Linked DNA regions of Homo sapiens: region 2 is linked to region 1. The links come from fine-mapping of genetic effects on gene expression. A gene starts in region 1. The other region holds a variant in brackets. All regions are shown on one strand. Distances are from middle to middle.

The links. PIP is the estimated chance that this variant, and not a neighbour inherited with it, causes the effect.
Region 2: its variant is fine-mapped to the expression of HARS1 in testis (GTEx, PIP 0.94).

What each region holds. Positions count from the first base shown.
Region 1 is chr5:140,683,776-140,696,292 of GRCh38, forward strand. It overlaps HARS1 (histidyl-tRNA synthetase 1), which reads right to left and starts at 7,595. Exons shown (of 13, transcript NM_002109.6): 1 at 7,440-7,595; 2 at 7,080-7,169. The coding sequence starts at 7,529. It overlaps HARS2 (histidyl-tRNA synthetase 2, mitochondrial), which reads left to right and starts at 7,680. Exons shown (of 13, transcript NM_012208.4): 1 at 7,680-7,981; 2 at 9,816-9,890; 3 at 10,160-10,279; 4 at 10,410-10,505; 5 at 11,733-11,858; 6 at 11,963-12,070; 7 at 12,328-12,426. The coding sequence starts at 7,874. RefSeq lists enhancers at 7,302-7,531, 7,692-7,781, 7,862-7,931 and promoters at 7,530-7,980, 7,530-7,651, 7,623-7,649, 7,714-8,030.
Region 2 is chr5:140,339,623-140,352,139 of GRCh38, forward strand. HBEGF (heparin binding EGF like growth factor) reads right to left here and starts at 6,981. Exons shown (of 6, transcript NM_001945.3): 1 at 6,661-6,981; 2 at 6,289-6,462; 3 at 3,013-3,190. The coding sequence starts at 6,706. RefSeq lists silencers at 6,896-7,175, 7,216-7,265. The variant G/A (reference allele first, on the strand shown) is at 6,754.

The DNA of each region.
Region 1 (12,517 bases):
GAGCCGAGATTGTGCCACTGCACTCCAGCCTGGGCAACAGAGTGAGACTGTCTCAATAAAACAAACAAATGGTGGTGGCAGGTGCCTGTAATCCCAGCTACTCAGGAGGCTCAAGGCAGGGAGAATCACTTGAACCTGGGAGGCGGAGGTTGCAGTGAGCCAAGATTGCACCACTGCACTCCAGACTGAGAGACAGAGCGAGACTCTGTCTCAAAAACAAAACAAACCAACCAGCCGGGCGCGGTGGCTCACACCTGTAATGCCAGCACTTGGGGAGGCCGAGGCGGGCGGATCACGAAGTCAGGAGATCAAGACCATCCTGGCGAACACTGTGAAACCCCGTCTCTACTAAAAATACAAAAAAATTAGCCGGGCGTGGTGGCAGGTGCCTGTAGTCCCAGCTACTTGGGAGGCTGAGGCAGGAGAATGGCGTGAACCCGGCAGGTGGAGCTTGCAGTGAGCTGAGATAGTGCCACTGCACTCCAGCCTGGGAGACAGAGCAAGACTCTGTCAAAACAAAAACAAAAACAAAAACAAACCCAACCAAACAAACAAAAATAATAACAACAAAAAAATACCTACATGATTATAGGCAATATAACCAACTCAAACTGGCTCAACTAATTGAATTCCAAATTTTATAAGCAACGTTTCTCTCCCAATATAACTTTTCTTTTAAATCTTAGTTACAACTGTTTGTTCTCTAATTTGTTTCTGGTAACAACTCTATGACATAGGCTAGGCAGATAAATTTTACAGATGAAGTACAGGATGTTGAGAAGTTAAGTCATTTCTTAAGGCCATTCAGCATGTTCGTGGCAGTCAGGACTAGAACTGTGTTGTCCTTCCAGGTCAGAGCTTCCAATCTGGGCTTTTATACCCTACTCCAAAGTCTTTGGTTTCAGGACCTCTTTACACTCTTACTATGTATTCAAGACCCCAAAGTGGATTATACCTATCAATATTTACTGTATTAGAATTAGAACGGCAAAAATTTTAAAATATTTATTCATTTAACAAATAACATATGTTAACACAAATAATATATCTATTATATGTTAACGCAAATAATATTTTAGAAAAAGGTAACTGTTTTCCAAAACAATTTAGTGAGAAGAGTGGCACTGATTTACATCTTTGCAAATCTTTAATGTCTGACTGAATAGAAGACAGCAGGATTCTCATATGTGATTTTTGCATTCAATCTGTCGTGATATGTCGTGCTGGTTGAAGTATATAACGAAAATCTAACCTTACACAGATATGTAGTTGTAAAAGGAAGAGTATTTTAACAAACTTTTCAGCTAACTGTGGATATTTTTCTTTGGTACTACATCAGAATCCAACAAGTGGTTGTTTCTTAAAGATTGGTTGCAATGTGGAATTTGAAAGCTAGATCAATGAACTTAAAAAAAAAAAAAAAGAACAATTAGTCTCTCACTTATCTAGTACCTAGAATAGTCAAATCCATAGAGACAGAAAGTAGAAAGTAGGATAGCAGTTACCAGGGGCTGGAGGGAGGGTGAAGTGGGGAGTTATTGTTTAATGGGTACAGAGTTTCAATTGGGGATGATGAAAAAATTCTGGAGGTGGATAATGGTGATGGTTATGAGTATGAATGTACTTCATGTTACTGAACTGTACACTTAAAAATCATTAAAATGGGCTGGGCGTGGTGGCTCACACCTGTAATCCCAGCACTTTGGGAGGCCAAGGCAGGTGGATCACGGGGTCAAGAGATCGAGACTATCCTGGCCAACATGGTGAAACCCCATCTCTACTAAAAAATACAAAAATTAGCTGGGCGTGGTGGCACACACCTGTAGTCCCAGCTACCTGGGACGCTGAGGCAGGAGAATTGCTTGAACCCAGGAGGTGGAGGCTGCAGTGAGCCAAGGTCATGCCACTGCACTCCAGCCTGGTGACAGAGTGAGACTCTGTCTCAAAAAAAAAAAAAAATCATTAAAATGGTAAATTTTATGTTACGTATATTTTCCTACAAAAAAAAATCCACTACTGTATTTTGTACTTTGAATGAATGGATCCTTTGCCTGTGCATGATTTCATAACAGGTCTTTCAAATGTTGATACATTTCATTATACAATATCAGGAAGCCTTATTTATTTACATCACTTCAGATCTCATCAAGAAAGTCTTTTTTTTTTTTTTTTGAGATGGAGTCTCGCTCTGTCACCCAGGCTGAAGTGCAGTGGTGTGATCTCGGCTCACTGCAACCTCCACCTCCCAGGTTCAAATAATTCTCCTGCCTCAGCCTCCTGAGTAACTGGGACTACATACAGGCGCGTGCCACCACGCCCGGCAAATTTTTTGTATTTTTAGTAGAGACGGGGTTCCACCATGTTAGCCAGGATGGTCTTGATCTCCTGACCTCATGATCCACTTGCCTCTGCTTCCCAAAGTGCTTGGATTACAGGCATGAGCCACCTTGCCTGGCCTGTTTTTATTTGTTTGTTTGTTTTTGAGATGGAGTCTCACTCTGTCACCCAGGCTGGAGTACAGTGGCGTGTTCTCGGCTCACTGCAACCTCCACCTCCCAGGTTCAAACGATTCTCCTGCCTCAGCCTCCCAAGGAGCTGGGATTACAGACGTGAGCTACCATACCTGGCTAAATTTTTATTTTTAGTAGAGACAGCGTTTCACCATGTTGGCTAGGCTGGTCTCAAACTCCCGACCTCAGGTGATCCGCCCACCTTGGTCTCTCAAAGTGCTGGGATTACAGGCGTAAGCCACCACACCCAGTAGAAAACTCTTTAATTATTGGGAAGCTGTCAAGCTTATGATGGAAGATGCAAGTTTTCTAAAATTCTTTTTTTTTTTTTTTTGAGATGTAGTTTCACTCGTTGCCTAGGCTGGAGTGCAATGACGCGATCTCGGCTCACCACAACCTCTGCTTCCCAGGTTCAAGCGATTCTTGTGCCTTAGCTTCCCTAGTAGCTGGCATTACAAGCATGCGCCACCACGCCCAGCTAATTTTTAGTAGAGATGGGGTTTCTCTATGTTGGTCAGGTTGGTCTCAAACTCCCGACCTCAGGTGATCCGCCCGCCTTGGTCTCCCAAAGTGCTGGGATTATAGGCTTGAGCCACCATGCCCTGACTAAGTTTTCTAAAATTCTAACTTTCACCTGAATACTTGAATTTTTTCACTGCCTACAAGTACTGTCAGATGTTTTCCTTGAGGTGACGAGGCTCACTTCGTTTATTGTTGTAAAAATGTCTGCCAAATATTTAAGTTTGAAAAACCATAATTTATCTTTCAGTTGTTAATTCAAATAAAACAAGATGTTCTATGAAAAAAGTAGCTAGATCAGCTTGCAACTTGAACAATGGCATAAGCATTTTCCCTACCTTGGCGTGCAGAAGTGCTTTATGTGTACTTCCCATTTTGTCATAGCAAATATTTAAAAATAGGGTCCTCAAGGGTCAAGATTCAATAAAATCAGTAAGTTTTTGGCCAGGCATGGTGGCTCAGCCTAGCACTTTGGGAGGCCAAGGTGGGCAGATTGCCTGAGCTCAAGAGTTCCAAACCAGCCTGGGCAACATGGTGAAACATGTTGTAGGTTTCTTGTATGTTTTTTGTATTTCTGTAAAAATACAAAAAATTAGCTGCATGTGGTGGTACCCGCCTGTAATCCCAGATACTCAGGAGGCTGAGGCACAATAATTGCTTGAACCCGGGAAGTGGAGGCTGCAGTGAGCCAAGATCGTGACACTGAACTCCAGCCTGGGCAACAGAGTGAGATTCTGTCTCCAAAGAAACCCCAAAACAAACAAAGTTTTACCATTTTATCAATGACATAGTTAAGTAAAACTGAATTTTTTAAATTAATTAATTAATTAATTTATTTATTTACTTACTGTGAGTGCATGGCAGTGAAGAACACACTGGCTATTAGTACAGTTTAGTGTCACTGTCTTAATGTATGCTAAGGCACCAGCAGTTCTACTCACCAGCGCTTTTGTGCCTTCAGTGCAAATGTTAACACAACGAAAAAGGCAGATAATGTCTTAGAATTATTATAGAAGGGCCAGGCGCAGTGGCTCACGCCTGTAATCCCAGCACTTTAGGAGGCCGAGGTGGGAGGATCACTTGAGGCCAGGAATTCAAGACCAGCGCAGCCAACACGGTGAAACCCCATCTGTACTAAAAATACAAAAAATTAGCTAGGTGCGGTGGCACATCCCTGTAGTCCCAGCTACTCGGAAGGCTGAGGCAGGACAATCGCTTGAACCCGGGAGGCGGAGGTTGCAGTGAGCTGAGATCACGCCACTGCACTCCAGCCTGGGCGACAGAGCAAGACTCCGTCTCAAACAAAACAAAACAAAACAAAACAAAACAAAACAAAACAAAAGAATTATTATAGAAATAGTTTTGACCATGAAGATCCCTTGAAAGAGTCTTGTCCCCACAATACTGAGTTTTCTATTGTTAATACTAAAATGGATATTAACTCTCTAGCATAATCTTAACACTATAGTATGGAAATTTTCAAAGACACAATATAGAGAATAGTATTACAGGTCACCATTTATCCATTACCCAGCTTCAACAACCATTAACATCTGCTATTCTTATTTCATTTAAGCCCTGACATGTTTTTCTTACATATTTTTAAATAAATCCCAGACGTCATATCATTTCATCCATAAATACTTCAGTATGAATCTCTAACTCATACGGACATTTAAAAAACCCCAAAGACTCTATCTTTATTATAACTAACAAAACTAACAGCAACTCCTTAATATTATCTAATGCTAAGCCATGGTCAGTTTTCCCCAGTTGCCTCAATAATATCTTTTTATGGTTGATTTATTTGAATCAGCTTCAGAATGAAGTCTATGCGTTGTAATCAGCTGATATGTCTATTTAATCTACAATAGTTTCCTTCCCTCCCCAACTTTTTTTTTTTATTTTAAAAAGGTCATTTATTAACTGAGGAAATTGGGCCATTTGTCCTAAAAAAAAATTTTCACATTCTAGATTTGGTGAACAATATGCTTGATGTGCCATCTAACATGTTCCTCCATCTCTAGTATTTCCTGTAAACTGATAGTTAGTCCAAAGATCTGATTAGATTCAAGTTCAATTTACTTGGCAAGAATACTTCCCAGGTGGTGCTGTGTACTTCTTCTTGCATCACATCAGCAGGAACATAATGTCTAGTTGTCCTACTTTTAGTGATGTTAAAACTGATCACTAGTGAGGACAGACTGATCCATCATAAATTCCACAGTAAGCTTTTCATCTAATAGTTTGAAAAATCATTGATGATCACCACTTTGGGATTTTACACTGTCTCTTTAACCTTCAAAAATTAGTTATATGTAGAAAGAAACAGCTCAATGAATTTAGGATCCCAAAGAATTAACCTTAACACAAGGAAAACAGACCATCTCCCCTCTCCTTTGGAATTCAATTTCAAATACATGTATTAAATAGAATCATCCCTCAGTATCCACAGGAGATTTGTTCTGGGCCCCATGTGAATACCAAAAATCCATGGATGCTCAAGCCCTTGACATAAAATTATATGCACATCCTCCTATATACTTTAAATAGTCTCTAGAGTGTTTATAATGCCTTAGACAATGTAAAGGCTATGTAAATAGTTGCTATACTATATTTTTTATTTGAAATTTTTATTGTTAGATTTCAAAAGGTTTTTATTTGTTTGTTTGTTTTTAGAGATAGGGACTCACTATGTTGCTCAGGCTGGTCTCAAGCTCCTGGGCTCAAATGATCCTCCCCTTGTGGCCTCCCAAAGTGCTGGGATTACAGGTGTAAGCCACCACACTCAGCCAGATTTTTTTTCTTAATCGTTTCTTTTCCCCTGAATGGTTTTGATCCACAGTTGGTTGAATCTGTGAATGTGGGACCTTGGGATATGGAGGGCTGACTATACCTATTTAGGCATCTAGTCTCAGTCTCAGGGTAAATAAACGACATAAATAACTACTTAAAGTTGGTGTAATAACAAATATGTATGAAGTGCCAAGAGCACCTAGATGAAGGGGTAAACAGTTCTGTTTATAGAACTTACAGAAAGTGGAACTGAACTGGAGGATGAGCTCAGAATCTCCAACCTCATTCCACTCTACTCTCCTTAACTTAGTTCTAGCCATGTAGATCATCCTCTAGTTCCTCAAAACTACCAAAGTTCTTTCCCACTTTAGGGTTTCCATACTCTACCTGGACCTATCTTTGTCACACTTGTCCTCTGGCTATCTCCTACTCATTCATTAGATCAGTTAGTATATCACTTCCTCAGTTAGCCTTTCTCAGACTCCCCAGTTCTCCCTTATTTTTCTCAGAGCAACCTTAATTTCTTTATATCATTTTTCACAATATGTAATTACATAACCACATGTGGTGGCCGGGTGCGGTGGCACACGTCTGTAATCCCAGCACTTTGGGAGACTGAGGCGGGCAGATCACTTGAGGTCAGAAGTTCAAGACCATCCTGGCCAATATGGTGAAACCCCGTCTCTACTAAAAATACAAAAATTAGCTGGGCATGGTGGTGGGCACCTGTAGTCCCAGCTACTCAGGAGGCTGAAGCAGGAGAATCGCTTGAACCCAGGAGGCAGCGGCTGCAGTGAGCCAAGATGTGCCACTGCACTCCAGCCTGTGCAACAGAGGATACTCTGTTTAAAAAAAAAACAAAAAAATCTGTGTGGGATTATTTGTTCTAAGTCTCTCTCCTTCAGTAGAATGTAAGCTCCATGAGGGTAGGCTATATTGTCCACCATGGTATATATTCAGTGCTTTGTATAGTGCTAGAGACATAGCGCTAAATACACATTTATTGAATGAACGAAGGAGTAGCAGCAGCAGGCTGACTCCCCTGATCACCCAGCTGGCCTAGTTTCTGCCATCACTTTGCCATCCCAGAATGACTCAGGTAGAGTCCAGTCCAGCCCAGCGCCCAGAGCGACTGTCCTCTCCTCTGCAGCATTTCAGATCCTCCTCAATGACCTGGTTTAGGGAGGCAGACATAAGCGCCCCGTGAGTAGAGTTAGAGACTTTCTCAGTGGCTCCCTACAGGAATGATATTACCTTGGGGGTTTTGAGCACAAATTTCTGTTTGCTTTCATCAGGACCCAGCTGTGCCTTCAGTTTCAGGAGTTTCGCCACCTCCTCCTCGATCTGTGGAGGGAAAGAAGGCGCTGAGCTATCCATCTGTCACTCTCCTCCCTCCCCCGCCATTCATTCAATATTCCTCCCTCATCACATCTCTCTGCTCAGGCCTAGCTTTGTTTCTCTCGGGACCCACCCCGGATGTCTCCCCACGCAGCCCACTCTCCTCCCTACAAGACTGGTCGCTTCCCTCACATCTCTACCCTATGTCCCGAACACCCTGGCTTTACGTCCTCCCAGGCTTTGCCTTGGCCCTCTCCCCTGCTGCCTAAATCTCACCAGCTCGGCGCTGGCCTTCTGCTGCTTGAGGCCTCGCACGCGCTCTCCCTGAAGTTTCACCAGCTCCTCCAGCGCCGCACGCTCTGCCATCCCGGCTGTCCACTTGAGCCGCCTGCTGTCTCGACCTGCGGTGGTTGCCCCAGCCTCAGCAAGGATGACTTCCGGCTATCGAGTCGCTGGGTCGCACGCCTAGAGAGCCTCCGCCGAGCACAAAAATTATTTCCGGCTCCTCCCGGAAGTGCCGAAGCTGGCTACTAAGGGAACTTGGGAGGATCCCACCTCAGCCTTCGTGACTAGTGAGGTGCGCAAACGCCCGAGTTTTCCCTGGTGCGCGGGTTCCGCCTTTGCAGTGCCCTCCACCCTTCCTGGTGTCTGACCCGCCTCCTTCCCAGGCCTTTTGTTCCTGTCCCGGAAAGCCGGCGTCCTGCCGCGCGATGCCCCTGCTCGGACTTCTTCCCAGGAGGGCCTGGGCTTCGCTGCTCAGCCAGCTCCTGCGACCGCCCTGCGCTTCGTGCACCGGGGCGGTCCGTTGCCAAAGCCAGGTGAGCGAGACAGAATTATCTCTGGTCTGTCCCAGCAGGGTCTCCAGATCTGAACGCATAGCCTCGCGGCCTGTATTCCAGTAGTGTTACAATCGGTTTTTATCGAGTGCCCACTATGTACTGACACTGAACTAAGCGATTTGGATGCCTGGTCATTTAATCCTTGGAGCAATCTTGAGAGGTTGGAGTTTTGATTTCCATTCTGCAGTTGAGGAAACGGAGGCTGCAAGATTAAATGAATGACTTATACACGGATATGTAGTAAGGGAGTATTTTAATTCATATCCACACTTTTTCCTGAAACTCTTGGACTCAAACAGTAACATTTTTAAGCGAAATATATGAATATTCCTAGTAAATGAGATGACTAAAGATCAGAAGTAGACTGAGTTCATCTTAGAATTTACCTCAAAATGAATCTCAGAAAAACATTTTCAGATGTCAGAGAGTTTTGGATTTTGGAATTGCAGATAAGGGATTGTGTACTTGAACTTGGACTTCTCTTAGGGCAGATAATCGCCATAGTATGGAACCACCACATCCTCTATTTTTGGAAGGGCATACAGCGTGCTGGTAATGTCACTGATTAAGTTTTGCCTTACTTCGGAAAGATTCTAATGCTCTCTTAGCAGATGCTTTGTGCTATCGTGAACAATAGGGCACAGATCTTTTATTGATATTCAATCACAGCATCTTATCAGTCTGAGTTTTTTAGCTCATTCAAGAAATCCATATCTTATCATTCCACAGGCTTGTTCTGTGTCCTTGAGCTGGTTCCCTTGTCTTCAAGTTACAGTTTTCCTCTCTCTAAACCTGATAACCAGTGCTACCTTATTAAAAATTATTATTTTTTTGTCCGGGCACAGTGGCTCATGCCTGTAATCCCATCACTTTGGGAGGCCAAGGGGGGTGGATCACCTGAGGTCAGGAGTTTGAGACCAGCCTGACCTGTATGGCGAAACCCCGTATCTACTAAAAATACAAAAATTAGCCGGGCGTGGTGGCATGTGCCTGTAATCCCAGCTACTCGGGAGGCAGAGACAGGAGAATCGCTTGAACCCGGGAGGCGGAGGTTGCAGGAGCTGAGATCGTGCCACTGCACTCCAGCCTGGGCGACAGAGTAAGACTCTATCTGAAAAAAAAAAAAAAATTATTTTTGCTCTTTCAGTAGGAACGGTGACCTGGAGAAGATCACCATAATCCCTACCCCTGAATGGTTGGTGTTGGTAGTGGTGGGTTGTTCAGTGCCTTCATTATTCTCAGATTCTTAAAGTATTTGAGAATATTAAAAATGCGGCTGAGCTCGGTGGCTCATGTCTGTAATCCCAGCACTTTGGGAGGCTGAAGCGGTTGGATCACGAGGTCAGGAGTTCAAGAGCAGCCTGGCCAACATGGTGAAACCCCATCTCTACTAAAAATACAAAAATTAGCTGGGCGTGGTGGTGGCGCGCCTGTAGTCCCAGCTACTCGGGAGGCTAAGGCAGGAGAATTGCTTGAACCAGGAGGCAGAGATTGCAGTGAGCCGTGATTGTGCCACTGTACTCCAGCCTGGGCAACAGACCGAGACTCTGTCTCAAAAAAAAAAAAAAAAATCCATATACAGTGAGGAAGCTTGTGTGGTGAAGACCTGACCTCATATATATTACACGTGTAATTGTAAATACAACATAGATTCTTTGGGGTGGGACTGAGATTGGGATAGATGAAATGGTGCTTTGGCTTCCTGTTGCTCAGGGTGAAGAGTCTTTGCAGGTTGGTGGTCAACAGGGTCAGAGATGCCACAGGTCTGGCCAGTGTCCAGAGAAGCCACATCTCACATTCATTCTTCTGCCAGGTTGCAGAGGCAGTGTTAACATCCCAACTGAAAGCACATCAAGAGAAACCAAATTTTATTATCAAGACCCCAAAGGTAATACTTTTTGCCTACCCTATCCCATTAGAGTGCCTTGGAGGACTGACCTCTGCCTTGCATGTCTCTCTGACCCCTTTTAATGTTCTTTACAGTAAATTTTAAAAATATATACTATTCTTGAGATACTAGGTGCGGCTCAGAGTCATTTGAACTCAGTAGATTTCAGCTCCAGACCTGAGATTACATAATAAGTGTAGTTTAACTCCTTGTCTGAAATGGACTTATTTTTTGTTTTTGTTTTCACTATGGCTGCTTTTGGTTTCCAGGGTACCAGGGATCTTAGTCCTCAGCATATGGTTGTGAGGGAGAAAATTCTTGATTTGGTTATCAGCTGCTTTAAACGTCATGGAGCAAAGGGGATGGACACCCCAGCATTTGAGCTGAAGGTAAGGGGAGAAGAAAGAGTACGTGCAACCTCACTCACTTCTTCAATGGCGTTCAGTGTCCCAAAGGGCTTCTCATCTGTGTTTTGGAGTCATGCTTTCAACTGTGGCTCATTCTGTTTGACCCCTATAGGAAACCCTGACTGAGAAGTATGGAGAGGACTCTGGGCTCATGTATGATCTGAAGGATCAAGGTGGAGAGCTGTTGTCCCTCCGCTATGACCTTACTGTATCCTTTTGAGTACTGGAGCCTGACCTGTCTCTTTCCAAATCCAGCGGGCTTTCTCTGACAAAAGTGGAGAACGTGACTTTGGGATCTTAGAGGTCCATTGCCTATACTTCTAGTTTCTCCCAGAAGGCAGTTCTGCTACGGAAGCCTGGCCTGGAGCCCTGTCATTTAACTCTAGTGTGTATCATAATCCTTTGGGGGAGCTTGCAGAAGCACAGACATTTGGCTGCAGTCCCAGAGATTCTTAGCTAATTCTGTAGCTGGAATGGGGCTCAATAATTTGTATTAAAAAATTGTTTTTTTTGGCCAGACACGTGGCTCACGCCTGTAATCCAAGCCCTTTGGGAGGCTGAGGCAGGTGGATCACCTGAGGTCAGGAGTTCAAGACCAGCCTGGCCAATATAGTGAAACCCCATCTCTACTCAGCTCCTGCTGAGCTCTGGGGCTCTCAGGTTCTGAGTCTAGTTTGGGACTGACTGTCACCTTGTCTCCACAGATCTCTTTTGACGTAAAAAGTTAGCTGGCTGTGGTGGCAGGTGCCTGTAATCCCAGCTACTAGGGAGGCTGAGGCAGGAGAATCACTTGAACCCAGGAGGCAGAGGTTGCAGTGAGCCGAGATTGCGCCATTGCACTCCAGCCTGGGTGACAAGAGCAAAACTCTGTCTCAAAAAAAAAATTTTTTTTGTGGAGATGGGTGTCTTTGTTGCCCAGGCTGGTTGTAAACTCATCGTTTCAAGTGATCCTCCCATCTTGGCCTCCTAAAGTGCTGGGGTTACGGGTGTGAGCCACTGCATCTGGCCTACAGTCTGCATTTTAAACAAGCATCGTGGGTAATTAAGATGCATGTAGTCCTTTCCCTGCACTTTCAGAACCAGTAGCTTAGAAGTTGTTAGGCAAATCCAAGTTCTGAAGCTTGACTATTTTGAGATGGTTCGGAATCGATCTGAATGGGCAGAAAGACCTGAAGTTAGTTCTTGGGTCACTTCTATCTCTACTTGCCTTGCTTTCTGCTGAACTTTTAGTTTTGCTAGGTGAGATTCCTTCATTTGACACTATTCAATATATATTGAATTCCAAGCACTGCTAGGCCTTGGGGATAGTGGAAAAAAGGGAAGGTCCTTGTTCTTACCCTAGTGGATGAGATCCAGGCCCAGTCCTCCCTAATGTCTGTATACTGGGCCTAATCTTTGGATGCAGTATCCCTCTTCCTTAACCCATTTATGTGAGGTTCCCTTTGCTCGTTATCTGGCCATGAATAAGGTGAAGAAGATGAAACGTTATCATGTTGGAAAGGTGTGGCGGCGAGAGAGCCCAACCATAGTCCAAGGCCGTTATAGGGAGTTCTGCCAGTGTGTAAGTGACCTGATGGGAGCAGCACAGTTTGATAGTTCTAGGGGCCACAACCTTGAAACTGGCTGGATAATGGATGTTTTTTCCCATCTTTTTCTTTGCTGTAGGATTTTGACATTGCTGGTCAGTTTGACCCTATGATCCCCGATGCAGAGTGTTTGAAGATCATGTGTGAAATCCTAAGTGGATTGCAGTTGGGAGACTTTCTCATTAAGGTGAGGCCAGGGCTGAGAACTGTGGGAGAAGTCTGGATTTGGCCTAATACTGTTTATGCAAGTCCCAAACTTGGGTGACTCCAACCCTTAAGCCTGCAACTGTAGGACTTTCCTAGTAAAGCTGTTGTATTTCCTATATGTCTGTACTCTTCCTGTGAAATTTCCATCCTTTTTGTGTGTCAGGAAAGTAGGTACTGCCATTGTTTTGAGTGGAAGGGCATTGACAAGCACTTGGGTCACTGACATTGAGTTCTCAGGTAAATGACCGGCGGATTGTGGATGGGATGTTTGCTGTCTGTGGTGTTCCTGAAAGCAAGTTCCGTGCCATCTGCTCCTCCATAGATAAACTAGACAAGGTAACAAAGAAGACATACTTCAGTAGACCCTATCTAGCTTCTGCCCTGCCCTCAAATCCATACCACTAGTGAAAAATAAGGAGATTGTGGC
Region 2 (12,517 bases), 340 kb before region 1:
ACCTCAGGCGACCCACGTGCCTCGGCCTCCCAAAGTGCTGTGATTACAGGTGTGAGCCACTGTGCCCAGCAGAAACTACTCTTTGAGGGCAACTTTTGGCTGGTGACACAAAAAGGGTTTTCCTGTTCATGGTGGCTGCAGAGGGCTAGTTTAGGAAGCCAGCTAGCCTCAGGCTCACCACAGCAGCCTGGACACACCCTGGCTAGTGGTTCCTGGGTCTGGAGTCAAACAAGAGCCACAAAGATCCCCAGATGAACGTGCACAGATGTCACATTCCCCCAAACCAGGATTTCTGTCTTCTTGCTGCTTTCTGCCCTGAGTAGCAAGGGCAGGAGGCAGTAGGGGGCCAGTCCAGACATGCAATCAACCCCCTGAAAATCTGCCCAGGAAGTGGTGGCCCACGCCTGTAATCCCAGCACTTTGGGAGTCCAAGGCAGGCTGATTACTTGAGGTTAGGAGTTCAAGACCAGCCTGGCCAACATGGTGAAACCCCATCTCCACAAAAATTTAAAAATTAGCCAGATGTGGGGGCATGTGCCTGTAATACCAGCTGCTCAGGAGGCTGAAGCAGGAAAATCACTTTAATCTGGGAGGCGGAGGCTGCAGAGAGCCGAGATTGTGTCACTGCACTCCAGCCTGGGTGACAGAGCGAGATTCCATCTCAAAAAAAAAAAAGGCTAGATATGGTGGCTCATGCCTGTAATCCCAGCACTTTGGGAGGCTGAGGCAGGCGGATCACCTGAGGTCAAGAGTTCAAGACCAGCCTGGCCAACACGGCAAAACTACGTCTCTACTAAAAATATAAAAATTATTAATTCGGCATGGTGGCAGGTGCCTGTAGTCCCAGCCACTTAGGAGGCTGAGGCAGGAGAATTGCTTGAACCCAGGAGGCAGAGGTTGCAGTGAGCTGAGATCACACCACTGCACCCCAGCATGGGAGACAGAGTGAGACTCTGTCTCAAAAAAAAAAAAAAAAAAAAAAAGAAAGAAAGAAAGAAAAGAACAAAGAAAAAGAAAATTCTGCCCAAGAAGTTAATGTAAAGTTTTCAAATCAGATTGCTGTGCTGTTAGACTAGTAAAAGAATAAGAGACCTCTAGGACAACAGCTGCCCTCTGCCCTCTATAAAATGCTGCTCCAACTCTATAAGGACAGATACAGGAAAGAAAGATGAAAGCCAACACCCAGTACAGCTTGAGGGCATGAAAAGCATGTTGGACTAGGAGTCAGGTACTGAGACTCTGTCTTATTTCCAACTACTTATTTAGCTATTGACCTCAGGCAAATTACTTCCTATTTTCTGGCTCCAGTTTCATCACCTTTCAAGTAGAGGTACCAAGTCCTGCCTACTCAGCAGAGGGCTTTTGAAAAATCCCAGGAAACTATATCTCTCCAGCTCCTAAAGTAGTGTCTGCCACCAAATAGGGGCTCAACATACTTGGGCTCAACTCATATTATATATAAACACTGAAACTCTGGGACAAAGGAGATATGACATCATTATAGTTATCACTATCCCTAGGGACCACTGGGAAGGTGGCCTGGGCACCCATATCAGGTTCTCTGGGTTTAGGTGGTCATCCGAGTCCAGCTCTCCAGGAGGGCAACCTTATAAGGCCTCTCAACCACACAGTGCAAGCCCCACATCCATCCACCAAAATGCCCAGGACCAATCTGGTATAGACAGATTCCTGACCTCAATCCACCTTGACTACTTGAGTCACCTTCTTCACCCTGTACTAATGATGCCATTTTACAAATTTAAGATGAACATTTCCCACCCTGTCCCAAGACCTTGGGAAGGATAATATGGGGGCTTTCTATGCCACTCTTAAACAACTCCCTCTAATACCAAGCTCCTGACAAGGATGTTATAGGAAAGGATGCACAAGTGACTGTGGACATGGTGGGGAGTGATGGGTCTGTCTGCCAACTGCCAAATACAGGGCAGCTCTGCTGTGTGTGATCAGACAAAACAAGGAAGCTTTAAAAAGCTAAGGGATCTGCACCAATCACCAGTAGAAGGGATGCCAGGCACGCCGCCTTCTTGACAGGCTGGAGGCAGTGTGCATACAACAGTCTCTTGGCCCTGTCCAGAGTCTCCCACTAAGGCCCCCAGAGCCTCCCTCCCCACAGGGAAGGGAATGGATGTTTGCAGCCTGACGCAGGGTGTTGGCCTCAGGCACAGTGGCAACATTATGCCTGCCAGAGAGCATGGCAGTGCTGTCATCCCTGAGGGGTTGCCAAGGCAGCCGTTTGCTGGGTTTGGCTTAGGAGAGAGGCTAAGGAACCCACAGCCCCTCCACCCACACACCTACCCAGGGAAGGGGTGATGTTGCCTGACCGGGGGCTGATGCCTAATGGGTCAGGTTCCATTTCCTGTGAACCCTGCACAAAGGAATTGTTCTCTCACAACGTGGCCAAAGGCCAGTACTCTCCATGTCTCCCACCTCCTCGTCCTTGCTGGGATAAGGAAGAAGAAAGAGAGGCCTCAACCTGCCGCCATGATGATCCCTCTCTGTACAGTCCTGCCATGCCTCACAGTCAATCCACATTTGCACACTTACATGCACATAAACCCAAATACACACATACCTATACATCATGCATCCAAATGCACTTCCTACCTTCCCACAGGAGCTCTACTCTGCCCTGGAAGCCCACTCTGCCATGTTTCCTACTGGCTTCTCCCTCCCAGAGTAGGGCATCAGGCAAGAATTAAGGGCCTGCCTTCAGGTGCCAGCTGTCCTAGCCACATGCTCATTTCTGGGCAAGCAGGAAATGTCCCCAAGGATTAAAGCACGTCACAAAACCATACCACAGGAAATTGCATCCTATAGGGGGGAGGGGGCTTCCGCTGACTAAAAATATATTTCCCCTCCTCCCAACTTCCGCCCAGAGGTTGAGAAGAAACTGGGTGAAATTATGAATTCAAGGAACAGTGACAACGAGGAACAGCCACGTGGCTGACAAAGTGTGCTGATGAGATTCAGCCCTGGGGAAGGGGCACTTACATGCAGGAGGGAGCCCGGAGCTCCTTCACATATTTGCATTCTCCATGGATGCAGAAGTCCTTGTATTTCCGAAGACATGGGTCCCTCTTCTTCCCTAGCCCCTTGCCTTTCTTCTTTCTTTTCCCGTGCTCCTCCTTGTTTGGTGTGGCCAGTGCTTGTGGCTTGGAGGATAAAGTGACTGTAGGAGAAAAGCACTCTGTTAAAGTCTGACTCTTTGGGAAGAAAATCAGAAGAGCATAGTGCTTGAAAGGAGTATATATGCTTTGATTCCACCTGAAGTCAGAGATCTGGGAAGGCCCCTTAGCTCAGTGCCTCCTAAGAGGCAGAAGGAAGAGCAGGAAGATTGGGCAGAACCACCAGAAAGAGGGAACCTCGGTAGGAAGTAGAAGCTAGGGTGGGTCCCAAGGAAGGCATTTCACAGTCTCTGTGTAAGAGCCTCATTCTCAGAATGCTTTTGTTGAGTAACTGGGCAATTCTACCAACCTCACCTCCACCCCACTGTCCACCTTACACCCCCATCTCCTACTCCCCCACACCCACTTCATTCTATTTTGGCCTTCAATCAGCCTCATTTCCTGATGCTGTACTCAGTGAACCACTTGCAGAAAGACAGTGTCACACACAAAAATTGCTTCTAGAGAAGGTACTTGGAGGTTCTGGGGTTGGAGGGCTCCTAATATAAGAACAGTGTCCATGTGTTCAGGTGGTCTCTTCTGGGGCACCCCTTAGTACTATGAGCCCAGGGCAGAGCCTGGCTCAGGAACAGCAAGCAGGCCAGCCCTGGTCACGGCCTTGCTTTTTCAACTTCAAGCAAAATATTTAACTTGCATACCCTTTACAGCTCACCCACTTTCTCAAAGATTCATTCATATTTAACCCCCAATGTCCTGTTTATAGCTCTCTGGATTGGGGGGTACAGGGTGTACAAGGGATAGAAAAATGGAAAGTAAGGAACTGTCCAGAAGGAACTGGAACAATGATGACTCCCTCCTTCTTTCCATGCTTCAGAGAGACTGGGGGAAAAACAGCCTCACCCAGATATCCAGCTGGGATTGACCAGGGACTATGCCTATCAGCCCAATCCCACCCTTTTATCCCCCATCAGGAAAAAGGTGCCCACATCCATGGCTACAGCCATGTGTCTTACAGAAGGGTAAGCATGATACGTTAGACTAGAGACTTAGAGTCTCAAGCTAGAGGGACTTCAAAGAATACCATGTGGCCAGGCACGGTGGCTCACGCCTGTAATCCCAACACTTTGGGAGGCTGAGGCAGGTGGATCACCTGAGGTCGGGAGTTCGAGACCAGCCTTGCCAACATGGCAAAAATCTCATCTCTACAAAAAATACAAAAATTAGCCGGGCGTGGTGGTGTGTGCCTGTTATCGCAGCTACTCAGGAGGCTGAGGCAGGAGAATCACTTGAACCTGGGAGGCAGAGATTGCAGTGAGCTGAGATCGTGCCATTGCACTCCAGCCTGGGTGACAGAGTGAGACTATGTTTAAAAAAAAAAAAAAGAAAAAAAGAAAAAACTCATGGCAGGCAGAGTGACTTACTCAAGGTCATGCAGGATTGGGATTAGAACTGTGTTCTCTGGACTTCACTCCAATGTCCTTCCTCACCACACCAAGCTGCCTCACACACTCCCATCTCCTCCCTCTCACAAGTCTAGAGCACCTGAGATGCTGATCCAGGCATGAATGGGCTCTGAAGTCCATAGACCTGTGCTCCAATTTCAGCTATTTACTGTGGGCAGTCACTTAACTCCTCTGAACCTCAGGTTCTCAGTAAAATGTGGATAGCCAAAGTAACTATCTCAAAAGGTTGCTATAAGTGTTACATTAGCCAGGATAACATATCAAGTGCCTAGAACACAGTAGGAATTTAATAAATGGTAGCAGTCATTTATTTTAGGTGGTAGGATCCCCAGACCTGAAAAATAGTCCTTGCCCAGCAAAGCCAAAAGAAGGGAAGAGAAGTAGGTGCCAGCAGCCCCCACAGTCTTTCATTTCCTCTCATCCAGTCCCAGGCCCCCTCAGAGCTCAGAAGGTGATACAGGTGGTCAGAGGAACCCAGTGACCAGAGCTTCGGGGAGAGCAAGGCAGGGGGGCCAAGCCAATCAGAAAGGGGAGGGAGAAGGTGCAGGGTGACAGCCAGGCTCCTGCCATGGACAGGGAGCAGTGAGTCAGGTCTGCAGAGGTAAGAGGAGCAGCCGTGTGGGTGGGGGGTGGGGGTGGGGTGAGTCACAGCCCAGCCCTGCCCAGCCTAGGAGGAGAGGGCCAGGAGAATCCAGGCTGTTCAGGTCATGGGCAACCCCAGAGGGCCACTGGGAGAGGATGAAGTATGGGAGCCCAGGCTCAGTTTTGGAGTATGTGCTTGATTTATACAAAGTAGAGAGAGTATCCAAGGAAAGCTCCTGGGAATGAGGGAGAAGGGCAGCTGAGGAGCAGGTGGAACTAGAACAGGTGGGCATCTGTCCAACCAAATATAGTCATTCCAGGGTACAGTGCTGAGTCCTTGCTCTACTCTGGATAATCTCCTCAGGTTTGGAGGCAGGAGAGCTGGCAGGCTCTGGACTCTGCCCTGTACCTGTACTTGGCCACAGCCAAAGAGGCTGGTTGGAGGATCCTACACAGCCCTCCCCATTTGGAGTCTCCTCAGGAATGCAAGGTGCTCAGTAAGCTGCAGGTTTCCGGTAGCATTCACAGATATCCAGCATTTTAATACAGCCCCCTAGGGGCTCAGTGCTCACCATTCACAGCCTCATCTAGGGCGGCCAAGAGCTCCTCATTCCCCTCTGTTTCCCCAATCTGGAGACAGGTGGATGGAGGAGGCCAACACTGCACACTTTCTAGAGATGTGCCTGGGCATCTCCGCATGTGTTACCTCTATTTTATATATAATAGTCATTTGATATGGGAATTAGAACTGGCGCCCATTTTTACATAGTAGCTCTAGGGAAAGCATCTCAACCATTCCTTGTTCCTATCACCCAGCTTACCTAAGAAGAACGTAACAACCCCAGACAACACGTCTGATTCAATTTGCCCCGGAGTACCCAGAAGGGCAGCAACCCAGCAGGTGAGGCAATGACAAGAGAGAGAGAGTGGGACCTATATTCCAGGATCCCCCAGTGCCCATCAGGCCGATCAGCTTTTCCCCGAGGTTCTCCATGAATACCCTCAACCCACAGTATTGCCCAAACAGCAAGAATCTTGGATCTGCTTATTCTTCAACAGCCCACCAAGGTCCAAGGATGGGGGGCCTCCACACCCACCTCTCAAAAGGTCCAGATCTGCCTCTTGCAAGTCACGGACTTTCCGGTCCCGGCCGCCTCCTAGGGGTAGCAGCTGGTCCGTGGATACAGTGGGAGGGTCCGGGTTGCTGGTTCCAGCAGCTAGCCCTCTCCGAAGCCGCTCCAGGCTCTCGCCAGTCACCAGTGCCGAGAGAACTGCGGGCGAGAGGCCAGGCCGCATCAGACACCCGCCCAGACCCCTGACCAACACGCACCGATGCCGACGCCCGTCCGCCAGAGCGCAAGGGCCCCACCAAGTGGCCCGTGCCGGGTGCGCTGCGGCGACCTTCCCCCATGCCCCCAGCACAACGCCCCCATCCCCCCGATCTCCGGGGGCGTCGGCAGCCCTCTTACCTGCAGCCAGAAAGAGCTTCAGCACCACCGACGGCAGCAGCTTCATGGTCCCGCACCGAGAGGAGGCGGCGAGGCACCAGTCACTTTCGAAGC[G/A]GCGGCCACTGGGCGCTGGCACCAGAGCTGGGCGGCGGAGCTCAGGAGATTCCGCCGGGCACCGTCTGCCGCCCGCCTCTGCGTGCAAGCCTGGCCGGGACCCAGGCGCAGCTCGCTCTTCTTGAGTGTCTTGTCTTGCTCACTCAGCCCGCCCGCGCGGCCGCCCGACCCCGCGCGCCTAGGTCAGGCCAGCCAGCAGCGTGGCCCGCGTAGCTCCTTCGGCCGAATGAGCGCTGCCCGGCTCGCGGCCGGGAATAAGGCTCCAGGAGGCGCGGAAGCTCCGCCCCGCCCGGCGCCGCCCCCTCCCTCCTCCCGTGCTGGGAAGCTCGCCCGGCTCGCGGCGCCGGCAGCGCAGCCCCCGACCCCGCGGGCGCGGCGGAGGACTGGGCGGGAGGAGAGGGCGGCGTTCACAATTTTTGGGACCAGGCCGAGGCAGCCGCGGCCTGATTGTGGGTAGGGCTACTGACCGGCAGGTGGCGGAGAGCGGTTCCTACCTTTCCCCAAACGCCTGTCACTCTGCAGCCTTGTGACTGACTGCTGAGCTGAGTTCTGTTCCGGGCCTGGCCTCTTGCTTCATCTAAGCCCCATACCAGGGGTCTCCATCCCTGTCACCCTCTAAGTTTCAGAAGCCCACCTTTTGGCCTACCAACACGGCAAGTATCAAATAATAATTAATTCATCTATCATTTAAAAATTAGACACGTGAATGCCAGCCGTTCTCATAAACCCGAGATAACCAGAGTTGAAGTTGCAGGCACTTAGTATCAATCCAGCAAAAGCAAAGGAAGTTAGTACTCTCTTAGTCTCTGGAGTGGCTTCCTCCCATCTTCCCTCAGGGGACATTAGGATTTTTGAACTATGGGTTGTAATTCCCAGGCTTCTGAGATTGGAGAGACACAGGTTGTGAAACAAGCCTTATTCTTTTCCTTGCCTTTGACTGCCACCTTTTTCCTCAACATAAAAAATGAGCCACCCTCCCATAGGACCCAGCTGGCTAACCTAGATTGCTGTTTCACAGACACTAGGTGTTTCTCTTCCAACCCATGTGCTTTTGCAGGGGTCTTCTGGAGTCACTGTCCTGACCCAAAGAAATGAGTGTCTCAGTAGGTATTTCAGTTTCCAGGGACGTGCTGGGGAGAGAGTTGTTTGACACAGGGCTGGGTTGGCTTTCAGAGCCCTGAAATTGTGCCAGATAGAGCACTTGCCGGATTCTGCCTGTGTGTAGGGATAAAAACAGGCCTGCTATTTATACACAGTCTATCCCACTGTCCCTCCCTATCCCCACCTTTGCAGGGGTCAGTCTGGCCCTGCCCTCTTAACTTGCTCCAGTAACCTAGGCCTAGGTTTCCATAGTGCACTGGAATCACTACAGACCTGAGTTTGAATCCTGCCTTTGCTACTTACTGTGTGACCTTGGACAAGAAACTTAATTTCACTGAGCCTCAGTTTTGACGTCTCTCAAATGGAAAAAATAATAACAATAATAATAATGACTACTTTGTAGGGAGCTTTTTGAGAAATGAATGCGGGAACACATAAAAGTAGTTAGTATAGTGCCAGGCACACTATAAGCTCTCAATAAATGTGACCCATTATTATTGTTGCTGTTAATAATAATCACTAAGCACTTGACCACTCTATTTCCTTAGAGGCCTCTTTTCTCTCACTTCTCTAGATCGCTTGCCTTCCCCTAGGCCATATCTGAGGCTTTATGATATAGTTGGGCTGGTTTCAGACAGAAGCTCACCTGTCACCTATTTGGCTAAGAGCCACTGTTAGATTATCCTTTTGGGTGATGAGTATCGGGCCTAGGACCTCAGTGCATGGTCACCGCCCAAGCCATGACTTTGCCCTCCCTCAGCAGCTGCCTGGCCACCTGCTTCCCCAAAACAAAGCCACCTTGGGGTCAAGGCTCTCCCCAGGGGAGGGTGGAGAGAAACACTTCCTGACACATGGTCAAATCACCCCCTTTCCCCCACCCTCGCCAGAGTCACACCCTGCTCTCTTGCCCCAGCCTGCCTTTCTCCCTTCACATGCTCTGTCCTTCCGCCTTCTCACCCCCACATCAGCCTCAGTCCCATTCATGGGGCAACTCCAAACTTTCATCACACCTGGAGCCTCACCCCAGCTAGGTTTGTGTGTCAGCCAGGTTTTACAGGAAGGGCCTGAAAAAAGAAGATAAAAAGCTTGAATTGGATTTGGGACAGTCACTTCCCCTCTCAGAATCTTGGATGTCTCTGAGCAAAGAAAAGGAATCACAATTCATGCTGAGGCAATCTCATTAACTCAATTATATCATAAACATTAACTGAACATTTTTGGGGGGCACTGGGGACATAGAAATAAATAAGACAGCCCAGGACCTGCTTTCACAGAGCTTATATTCTATAGTAGACAGGCAGCACATTAAGGAAATAAACAAGGAAAAACATATCCTATAGTGATAACTGCTAAGATGAAAGTTAAAATACAATGATGTGCTGTAGGATAATATGTTCCAGTGCCCAGGATGACACTTTAAACTGATTAGCAAAGCCTTCTCTGAGCAGGTGACATGTAAGCTGAGGCCTGAATGAGAAGAAGAAATCAGATTTGGGATCATCTATGACAAAAGCATTCCAAGATGTGCAAATAGTGCAAAGACTCTGAAATGGAAAAAAGTTGGGAGCATTCAAGGAAAAGCAAGAGGGCCAAAAAAGGAGAGATATGGGATGATATTGGAACAAAGGCTAGCAACAGATAAAAGAGGACGTTATAAGCCAAGGTAGACACTGGATTTTATGCCCCATTATTGTCAGAATCATATGAGATGTCAATGAGACAGCACTGTCATGCAGGATTCCTCCATATTGTCCCCTCCTCCTGCTCAGGTCTCCCCCACCTGCTCTCTGGATGTCAGGTTGTCAAATGCCAGGAACATAGTCCTAAGGAAGTAGAGTTCAGACAGACAAGCCTGCTTTTATTGACTGTCTATTGACCATGAGCAAACTGAGGCTTGGAGACTGATTAGCCCTGGGCCACCAGTGAGTCAGAAGGGGGCAAGTGCAGAGCAGAAACCCTGGCATCCTGCTTCCCAGCCCATGCGAGTTTCCTGGGCCTCTGGAAAGGCAGGCTCCATGGGACTCTGAGTGCTGCTGACTCACTGCTAGGCCAGAGTTCTTGATTTGGAGAGAGCACTTGCTCCCCAGTGGGGAGGACCTGGAAGAAAGCGGTGCTAGTGGTGACAATTCCCCTGTAATCAACACTGCACATGCATTATCTTGCTTGATCCTCACAACATCCCCCAAACTAGACACTGTTATCATCATCTGCATTTTAAAGGATTGAAGCTTTAAAAGGTAACATCCCAAGGTCACCCAGCTAGTGAGTGTCTCAGCCTCAATTTGAAACCCCCTCGTTCACTTGGGCTTGTGCTCTCCTAAGCTCAACACTCAAATGGATGAGACGACAGCCGCCATCTCTATGCTTCTGTGGAGGGTAACATTATCAGTTTTACTGAGTTTCAGTCCTTCATCTGTTCTGAGGGATAATAAGAAACTCTGGCTCACTAGACTGGAAGGATGCTTAGGTAAGCACAGCAGGGCAGCTAATGAAATGGATACAGTCTTGGGAGTCAGATACTTGGGGGTTCAAATTTTGTTGGTTTTTTTTTCTTTCTAACTTTGAACATGTTATTCAATTTCTCTTACCTACAGTTTGCTCACCTGAAAAGTGGGGACAATAATAGTAGTTATTATTATAGGGCTTTTGTGATGATTCAGTCAGATCATGTGTATAAAGCGGAATATGATGCCTGGCACATAGTAGGTACTTACTCAATGACAGCGGTTATTATGACCAAATTTTTTTCTTGCTTTCTTTCCTTTTTCTTTTTAAGTGGGAACTTGAATAAAATGTTGGTTTATCATGAGCTAGCCATCCTCAGAGATGAAGTGTTCCTTTCTGGGAGATGGCCATGCTTATCAAAGAGATGCTAGATCTGCAAGGCCACCCAGAGTTTTGGAAACCTCAACCCAAAAAAGCAACTCAGGCTCAGAGGTCAGAGGGAAGCTGTGCCCCCTGGGGGAGAGGATTCAGCTGCCTTCTCATTCCCCTCTGACCAGAAGTGAATCCTGCACAGCCCTTGAACTCTGCTGCGTTGGGGAGAGGGGTAAAGAAGGGCACCTCCATTAAGGGTAGGTCTGACCATGAGCCCAGAGTTACCCAAACTTGGAATGTCAGGATGAGGGGTCATTGCTTCTTGGCCCAGGCTGGCTTCTCTCACCCCATCTGAGACAGTTAATCAAACAGTTTGGGCATACAGCTGGATTAGATTAGAATTCAGGCCTGCCCTTTGGAGCCCCCGTGTACCTTCTTATGCTGGCTGGGCACCTGGAAGTAGCGTGCTTCATGCATATTCAGGGATGAACAGGCTCTGCTGTCTGATTGTTTGGGGCTAGGATCTATTTGAATAGGATGAAGGATAGGAATGGATGAGATAGGGGGAGGCTTTTGGAGGTGAGGGGGTTTCAGGAATCCCTGTCATCTCCAGAAGATGTTGAGGAAGGAATATTTATAATGTGCTGGATCCCAAACCATCCTTCTCTATTTCTGGTCCCATTTTTGTGACTTTGAATGATTAACATCTCCAGACCAAGGACTTTGCCCCTACAGCCATCCCCTCTGTGTTGGCCAGCACAGAGAGAAAGTGATTCCTCCCTCATTACACACCCATCTCTCTCTTCAAGCCTCAGATTCCTCAAGTGAAAAATGAGAACTTGAAACAATTACCCTGCATTCAGGCACCGGCCAGTATGTCCATCATGAATTATTTGCTGTCATGTTGCTGTCAAAAGACTTGAGGAGGCTGGGCGCGGTGGCTCATGCCTGTAATCCCAGCCCTTTGGGAGGCTGAGGTGGGCAAATCACCTGAGGTCAGGAGTTCGAGACCAGCCTGGCCAACATGGCAAAACCCTGTCTCTATTTATTAGTACAAAAATTAGCCGAGCGTTGTGGCAGGCACCTGTTATCCCAGCTACTCAGGAGGCTGAGGCAGGAGAATCACTTGAGCCTGGGAGGTGCAGGTTGCGGTGAGCTGTGATGGCACCACTGCACTCTAGACTGGGCGACAAAGCAAGACTCCGTCTCAAAAAAAAAAAAAAAAAAAAGACTTGGGGAGACAATTCTATAACAATTGACAGTGCCTGATTTACAGGATGTGATAACCTTTCTCTCTGTGTCTCAGCTTCTTCGTCTATAAGTGGGGAGAATAACAATCTACTTAGGAGGTTCTTGTGACAACTGAAGGAGATAGCATCTCTGAAGTGCTTGGCAAAATGAAAAGCCCTATATAAATACGTCAGAGCTCCTGTTAACTTTTCTGGTGCTTAACCTTGGAATGTGGTCACATCACATTCTGTACCAGGAATGTACAAGTTCGGTTACTCTTAGAAATGCAGTTGCAGGTCTGCAATTTAACAATTTCACATTATCCATTTGCTCGTTTTTTTAACTAAGGGTTGGTCTAAGACAATGGTTCGCAAAGAAAGAGATACTGCCCCCTAGGGGACATTTCAGGAATTTAGTTGTCACTGACTGGGGAGTCCTCAGGCATTTGGGAGAAAAAGGGGTCAGGAAATTACCTGACTGCTTTTGAGTGTCCTACCAAACACATATCGGTAAAAAGCTTGGTTGTAATAACTTGAGCCTAGAATCATCTCTAATTTACACAAAAATATAACAAGAGTTTTTGCAATGACTTCCAGGAATGAAATTAGTGTGAGTT